Linked DNA regions of Homo sapiens. The protein of the gene in region 2 purifies or fractionates together with the protein of the main gene of each other region. This does not show direct contact. Each region holds a gene or a part of one and is shown on either strand. Other genes may lie near its edges.

Region 1 (3,599 bases), on a different chromosome or scaffold from region 2:
ACATTGGGGGAGGAGGCAGTGGCGGCAGCAGAAGTACAGCAAGGCAGCAGAATTGGGAGCAGCCCTGGCTGGGGGCCAAAGCCAGCTCACCCTGACAGCCAGCTTAAAATCAGGGAGAATTTGGAGGGAGGGGGTGGCAACAGCACCCCACCCAGACTACAGAGGCCAGGCCCAAAGCCTCTCCCTGGGGTGGGGCAAAAGAAGGCTAAGGGCAGGCCCCATGAGCTAAAGAGATGTGAAATGCCCTGGCTCACGCCTGTAATCCCAGCACTTTGGGAGGCCAAAACAGGCGGATCACCTGAGGTCAGGAGTTCCAGACCAGCCTGGACAACATGGTGAAACTCTGTTTCTACTAAAAATACAAAAATTAGCCAGGCATGGTGGCAGGCACCTGTAATCCCAGCTTCTTGGGGGAGACTGAGGCAGGAGAATCGCTTGAACCCGGGTGGTGGAGGTTGCAGTGAGCCAAGACCGCGCCACTGCACTCCAGCCCAGGCAACAAGAGCAAAACTCCGTCTCAAAAAAAAAAAAAAAAAAAAAAATCCACTCCTAAAGCGAGAGGTGGCCCAAGCCACTCAGGCAGAGGTCAGTGAGCTCTGGAGGTGGCCTTGAGGAGCAGAGAGTGGCGAGTGGGGAAAACCCAAGAAAGTGCAGCTACGTCCACCCCGCCGGACTAAACCCCACTCGCCCTTCACCCCATCTTAGAAGCAGCTTTCCTACCCCTAAGCACCCAGATCATGTATAAGCTGAGCCCCTCCCGGCATGGGAGCAGGAAAGAGGGGTAGTTAGGAACACAGGGACTGAGTCCTGCCACTCCAGGACACAGCTAGGCTCTGTCTCCTCCTATGCCTGTGGCTTTGACCACAAGTTATTTGTCCCACTCTGAACCTCAGTTTATCTGTAAAATGGGGATAATAAAAGTACATAAACTGTTCTAGTTTGTTGGCAGAAATATGTGCCTAACACATAGTTAGCACTTGACAAATACAACAAATTATTAGGATAGTCATTATCATCCTCAACACGGGTCCCTGGCCAGAGAGGATGTGCCTCATCTTGTCGCATCTACACCCTTCACCTGGTCTAAACTTTAGAGTACCCTGAGGACCAAGACGGTATCCCACCCCACCCTCCACCACTGCTCCAGAGGCAAACATGGCGCTGGAACTACAAAACGTGAATATCCCAGTGTTCTGAGACCTGAAATGAGGGAGGGGTGAAGCTGGAAAGATGTGTCTAGAGAAATAGCAGCTGACCTTGACCCCAGAGAGACAGGGAGGGTGCCCAGAGAAGACTGCACGGCTTGGGCCCAGGGAGACAAGAAGAACCCACAGCCACCAGCCGTGGGAACCGGTGCAAGTCACACTGCCTCTCTGGGTCTCAGTTTCCCTAGTTTTTGTGAGGAACAATTAACAAAACCCCATGAGTACTGGGAGTAAGTTACTCCCAACTTACAGACGAGGAATCGGAGGCCCGCAGAAGAGAACAAACTTGCCCAAGGTCACAGAGGTGGTGACAGAATCAGAACGCAAGCCTGGCAGATGGACCCAGAGCCAGACCCCTCTGAGCTATTCTCAAGGACTTCTCGTTACAAAGGGAACCTCCAAAATTTTCTTTAAAGAGAAAGTGCCCATAGTGGGCCAGGCATGGTGGCTCATGCCTGTAATCCCAGCACTTTGGGAGGCCGAGGTGGGTGGATCACCTGAGGTCTGTCTGGAGTTCAAGACCAGCCTGGCCAACATGGTGAAACCCCATCTCTGCTAAAAATACAAAAATTAGCCGGGCGTGGTGATGTGCGCCTGTATTCCCAGCTACTCAGGAGGCTGAGGCAGGAGAATCGCTTGAACCCAGAAGGCAGAGGTTGCAGTGAGCCAAGATCGCACCACTGCACTTCAGGCTGGGAGCCTGGGCGATAGACCAAGACTCCGTTTCAAAAAAAAAAAGAGAAAGTGCCCATAGTGTAGAATTTCCCTACATCAGAATTTCCCTGCTCAGAACACTAGGTTCTTGGACATTAGCCAAATTAGCTTGGAAAATACTGCATTACTTGTCTTTAAGGTACTAATATATGCTAATATACAGACTAAGTCTTCTGTACGGCCACAGAGTACCCAGCATTTTCCAAACATATTCACAGACTGGTATTCTTTAGGACACATTTTAGAAAAGGCTGCCCGAAAGCATAAAATTCAAACAAGCCCCTCGAACTCCTCTCTAAAGCAACTGTTTTCGTTCGGCTTTTTGAGGAGCCGTGCTTTCTGTTAGGAGCCACGCTTTCTGTTGCATACAATGAGGCTCACCTGTATGGCATCACGGCTAACCCCTGAACTCGGGTTAAAGTCAACACTGGCCAGATTACGGTAACACAACCACAAAAGCCTGGGTGTTTTAAAGACACAATGATGACACTATCCTCCTCTTCCCCTAACCTAGTCCCATCACAATCCCCGCCCCACCTCCCTCCATCCTAAACTAAGGGAACAAGATGATCACTTTCCACTTCTTAAGAGCCACCCCACACAGAACGGAAAGGCAGAGAGCTGTGGTGGTGGGGGGGGGGGTTGGGTGGGAGGGGGGCAGTGGTCCCACAGTGGCCACACCTGAAAGCAGTTAACATATACAAGTGAGAAAGAGGTACTCCTGACTCTTTGCCCTTAAGGGGTCACACCACCTTTCGACCCTCCAGCGGAGAGGATAAAAATCACTTTCCTGCTTCACAGAGCAGCTGTGAAGATCAATGAGGTAAGACGTGTGGTTAAGCATGGGGTGTGCAAAGTTCTATGAGTCCCAGGAAGAGAAATCAGGAACAACCACGCCAAGCCTGGACTCTCCCCTGCACCAAGAACATTAAAGCTGGAACTCTGCACTTCCTGAGTCAAACCCTGAGAAACTGAGGCTCAGAGCCCAGCAACCTGCCCAGGACCACAAGGGCCTCCCAACTCCTAGTCCTGCGCCCTCCCCTCGTCCCTGCAGTCCTCAATGCAGCCTCAGTGGTTCCCTGTGCTCCGTCACCACCCCGTCAACAGCCTGAGTCGTCAGGAAGCTCCACTTCCTCAAATCCCCCTGGGCATCTCACTGGGCCCATCTTCCTCTCTCCCTTCTCCTCCTCCATCCCAAATGCCTCTCCAGAGTCCCCAAGACCACCATGATATGCTCTAGCCCCTTCCTGCTCCTCTCCTCCCACCACCAACCCCTTCCACTTATAAAAGCCCCTGCCCCACACTTCCCTTGCCTTCCCCACATACCCAGTGAGAAGCTCCCACTGTGGGGCTGGAAAAGGTAACATTTTCTGCTCACTAAAGGGAATAAAAGCGAATCTCAATGGATGGAAATGTTAACAAAACGGATGCAATGCCTTTTTAGCACGTTTCTCAGCTGCAAAACCATCTCAGCTGGTTTTAAAACATCCATGAAACAGACTGTGCTTGCCTTGCAAAGCCTTTGGAAAGTTCTTTCAGCAAATTTGCACAGAGGCCAAGGTCATGGGGCCAGGTCCCCATACCCTTCAGGTTCTTGAACTTGCTATTCCAGGCTTCAAGACAGGACAGGCAAGAAGCACCAAGTACCTAACCTCTTTGAGAACCCGTGGGTTCCACTGT
Region 2 (3,599 bases):
ACTCCGTCTCAAAAAAAAAAAAAAAAAGTATGCATTTTGGTGAATGCTTAGACATTCCAGTACCTATATTTGCCTTCTTATATTCTTTAAATGATAAACCTTTTTCATAGTGCAACAGAAAAGGATAATATATGTAAGACATATTGGAATAAATGGTTAAGGCAGCTCACAGCTGTATTCTTTGGGCCGTTAGGGGTGAGGGATCAGTATGTTCAGCACCTTTAGAACCCATTCCCATATGCAAGGTCCACTGGCTTGGGAAGCTCTGCTTGAAAGCATTTATTACTTTGGAAAAGTCCTAATAGGCTCAGCTAAAAATGTATGTTTTACTGGGAAAACCAAAGACTTGGATATGTAGATATCTTTATACCCATTACTCATACAGTCATTTTATAACAAAAGTGTGATTAATAAAACGCTGTGTATGTGAAATTAAGAATTGCTGAGACTGGGCGCGGTGGCTCATGCCTTTAATCCCAGCACTTTGGGAGGCCGAGGCGGGCGGATCACTTGAGGTTAGGAGTTCGAGACCAGCCTGACCAAGATGGAGAAACCCTGTCTCTACTAAAAATACAAAATTAGCCAGGCGCAGTGGCACATGCCTGTAATCCCAGCTACTCGGGAGACTGAGGCAGGAGAATCGCTTGAACCTGGGAGGCAGAGCCTGCAGTGAGCCGAGAGCACGCCATTGCACTCCAGCCTGGGCAAAAAGAGTGAAACTCCATCTCAAAAAAAAAAAAAAAATGCTGAGTAAACTGTAAACATATACTGTATGCATAGCTGGGGTACATTAGAGTATAATGGAATGTACTGTATTTTGGTACTTGAATAAGTAATTAGCGAGGTGGGGGGTTATTTGATCCAAGATGAGGACTCATTTAGGCTGTCTCCACTTCGCTCTTCTCTGTCCTTCACCTCTCCTTCATCCATTTATATTTTCTTGGTAACTTCAGTTACACGTTAAGGTATGTACTGGCCATAGTGTTTTAACACTGAGAATTCAAAGACAAATAATACTCCGATTTTGCCTTCTCATAGTGTATAGGCTTCATAGGTGCACAGAGTGCTGTGGGAGAACACAATAGAGAATGATTAAACTTGTGGAGGGTGTGGGGGCAGTTTACGGAAAATAACACTGAATAGGAATTTGCCAAACTGGGGAGAGGGAGTCATGTCAAACAGAAGGAAGTGTGGGTGCACTGAGGTGTCAAGTGTTAGGGTAAGGCTAGTGATAAGGTGTTACTGGAACAGTGGGAATGACTCGAGATGAGCCTGCAAAGGTGTGTCTGGTCTAGATTTTGAAGGACCAGCCTTGCTAAGCTAAAAGGGAAGTGTATAGCCTTATCTGACAGCAGAAGAGAGAGCCAAAATATTGTTAGCAGAGGAGCAAGGCGATTTGGAGGTCACTTTGGCATCCCTGTGGAGAATAGAGTGGAGGCCCTACAAGTGTATATTTGAGATAGTATGGAGTTAGTGACTTTGAATCTGTTTTCTTCTTTTTTTCTGAGATGAAGGCTCACTTGGAGTGCGGTGGCGCGATCTCGGCCCACTGCAACCTCCGCCTCCTGGGTTCCAGCCATTCTCCTGCTTCAGCCTCCCGAGTAGCTGGGATTACGGGCTCCTGCCACCACGCCGACTAATTTTTTTGTATTTTTAGTAGAGGCAGGGTTTCACCATGTTGGCCAGGCTGGCTTTAAACTCCTGACCTCAAGTGATCTGCCCACCTTGGCCTCCCAAAGTGCTGGGATTACAGGCGTGAGCCACCATGCCTGGCCTGGATCTATTTTTAACTTGGATATGGTGTCTTCTGAGTCTGTGGTCCCTTAAGGGACTTTAGGGCTATGCCCAGTTGCTCTATAATACAGGGTCATTTAAAATCAAAGTGTCAGTATGTTTTGGAAGAAGTTAAAAGCAGTCAAAACAATGAAAGTTATAAAATGTTACTCATGAAAGTTCAGGTGTTGAGAATACTTGTCTTCTGAGTTAGGCTTAGGCAGGCTATAGACCTTAAGCTGGAAAATTCAACCCTATGTCCACTTGAAATCAAAGCCACCAAGCTTAAAAAGTTACCAGTATCCTGATGGTTTGCTAGGATATGGGTTGTAAACATTTTGTGAAATTTTGGGGGGAAGGCAGTTTTCTCTCTAGTAAATTATTGGAATTGGAATAGTGAGACTAGCTTAAGGTCTAAGAAGTTCTCATACAACTGTTAATTTATACAGTCAGTTCTGCTGTAAAGCAACATACAGGTTCCTAAAAATCACTGCTTTGCAGAATCGTGCAGTAGAAATGACTTACAAATGGGGTTGGGGTACAGCACTCTAAAGCTTTATCAGTGACACATTTAAAAAAGGAACCTGGTAAAAATGATAGAACAGTTTTACACGTTGAATGGTTAAGAAATATATAGATACTGTAATAAATGTGGCATTTTCTTTGAAAAAGCCCTGGTTTGCTTGTGGAAAGGGATGTCAGAAAGGTTGCTGCTGGTGAGTTACTGTGAAGTGGTAGAAGAATTACTTATAATCAGATGGAAGGTTGTAACACGAGAAGCAAATAGGTGTGGCTCTTAACCCATAATAAACTGACTTAGCTGGTGGGTGTTTGAAGTGTGTTTCATGTATTTCTACACAGTTCAGTTCGGCTGGGTGCAAGCTTTCTCCCTTCATCTAGTGTTTATGTGACAGAATAGCACATAAATAAACAGGAAATATGGATTGTGCTCAAATTGTTCTCTAATTTGTGTATCAATCACAGTGGAACAAATTCACCTTTTCTTTTCTTTTTTTTTCCCCCCTTTTTCTTTCTTTTGCTTTTCCTTTTCCTTTTCTTTCTTGACAGGGTCTCACTCTGTGTCACCCAGGCTGGAGTGATGATGACTTGCTGCAGCCTTGACCTCCCAGGTTCACCCGAGCCTCCTGAGTACCTGGTATCACAGGTGTGTGCCACCACACCTGGCTGATTTTTCTTATTTTTAGTAGAGATGAGGTCTCTCTACGTTGCCCGGTTTGGTCTCACACTCCTGGGCTCAAGCAGTCCTCCTGCCTCGGCCTCCCAAAGTGCTAGGTTTATAGGTGTGAGCCACTGCACCTGGCCAAATTCACGTTTTCTTTTTCTTTTCTTTTCTTTTTTTTTTTTTTGAGATGGAGTCTCACTCTGTTGCCCAGGCTAGAGTGCAGTGGCGCTATCTAGGCTCACTGCAGGCTCCGCCTCCCGGGTTCACGCCATTCTCCTTCAGCCTCCTGAGTAGCTGGGACTACAGGCACCTGCCATCATGCCTGGCTAATTCAAATGCACGTTTTCAAAACAAGTTTTATAGTTGATTATACTTGTTTAATACTAGTTTTAAATAGTACTATAACTCAGTTTCAAAAATACTTGTTGAACAATCTATGTGTCAGGTAACATGCTACCTTTGTGGGGCTTAGAGTCTTTTGTCCCAAGTAGGTTTATAGTGTTGTGGAGAAGGACAAATGAACCAATAGAGTACTCATCGGGTTATACAGTAATTAAGAAAGCACAAAGCATTTTGGGCATGCTAAGGAAGGAGAAAGTCATTCTGCTTGGAAAACCCAGGGAGTCATCTCAGAGGTCTTTAA

Evidence for each region. Proteins that work in one complex are often made in the same cells at the same time.
Region 1: the proteins of CNOT6 (region 2) and TNKS1BP1 purify together in Homo sapiens (affinity purification with mass spectrometry; 3 studies listed by BioGRID and IntAct, with this or other methods). This does not show direct contact.

Annotation. Positions count from the first base shown.
Region 1 is NC_000011.10:57,304,354-57,307,952, forward strand, and holds part of TNKS1BP1 (182 kDa tankyrase-1-binding protein), read right to left. Parts: intron 1-3,599.
Region 2 is NC_000005.10:180,497,316-180,500,914, forward strand, and holds part of CNOT6 (CCR4-NOT transcription complex subunit 6), read left to right. Parts: intron 1-3,599. UniProt on the Homo sapiens protein: Poly(A) nuclease with 3'-5' RNase activity.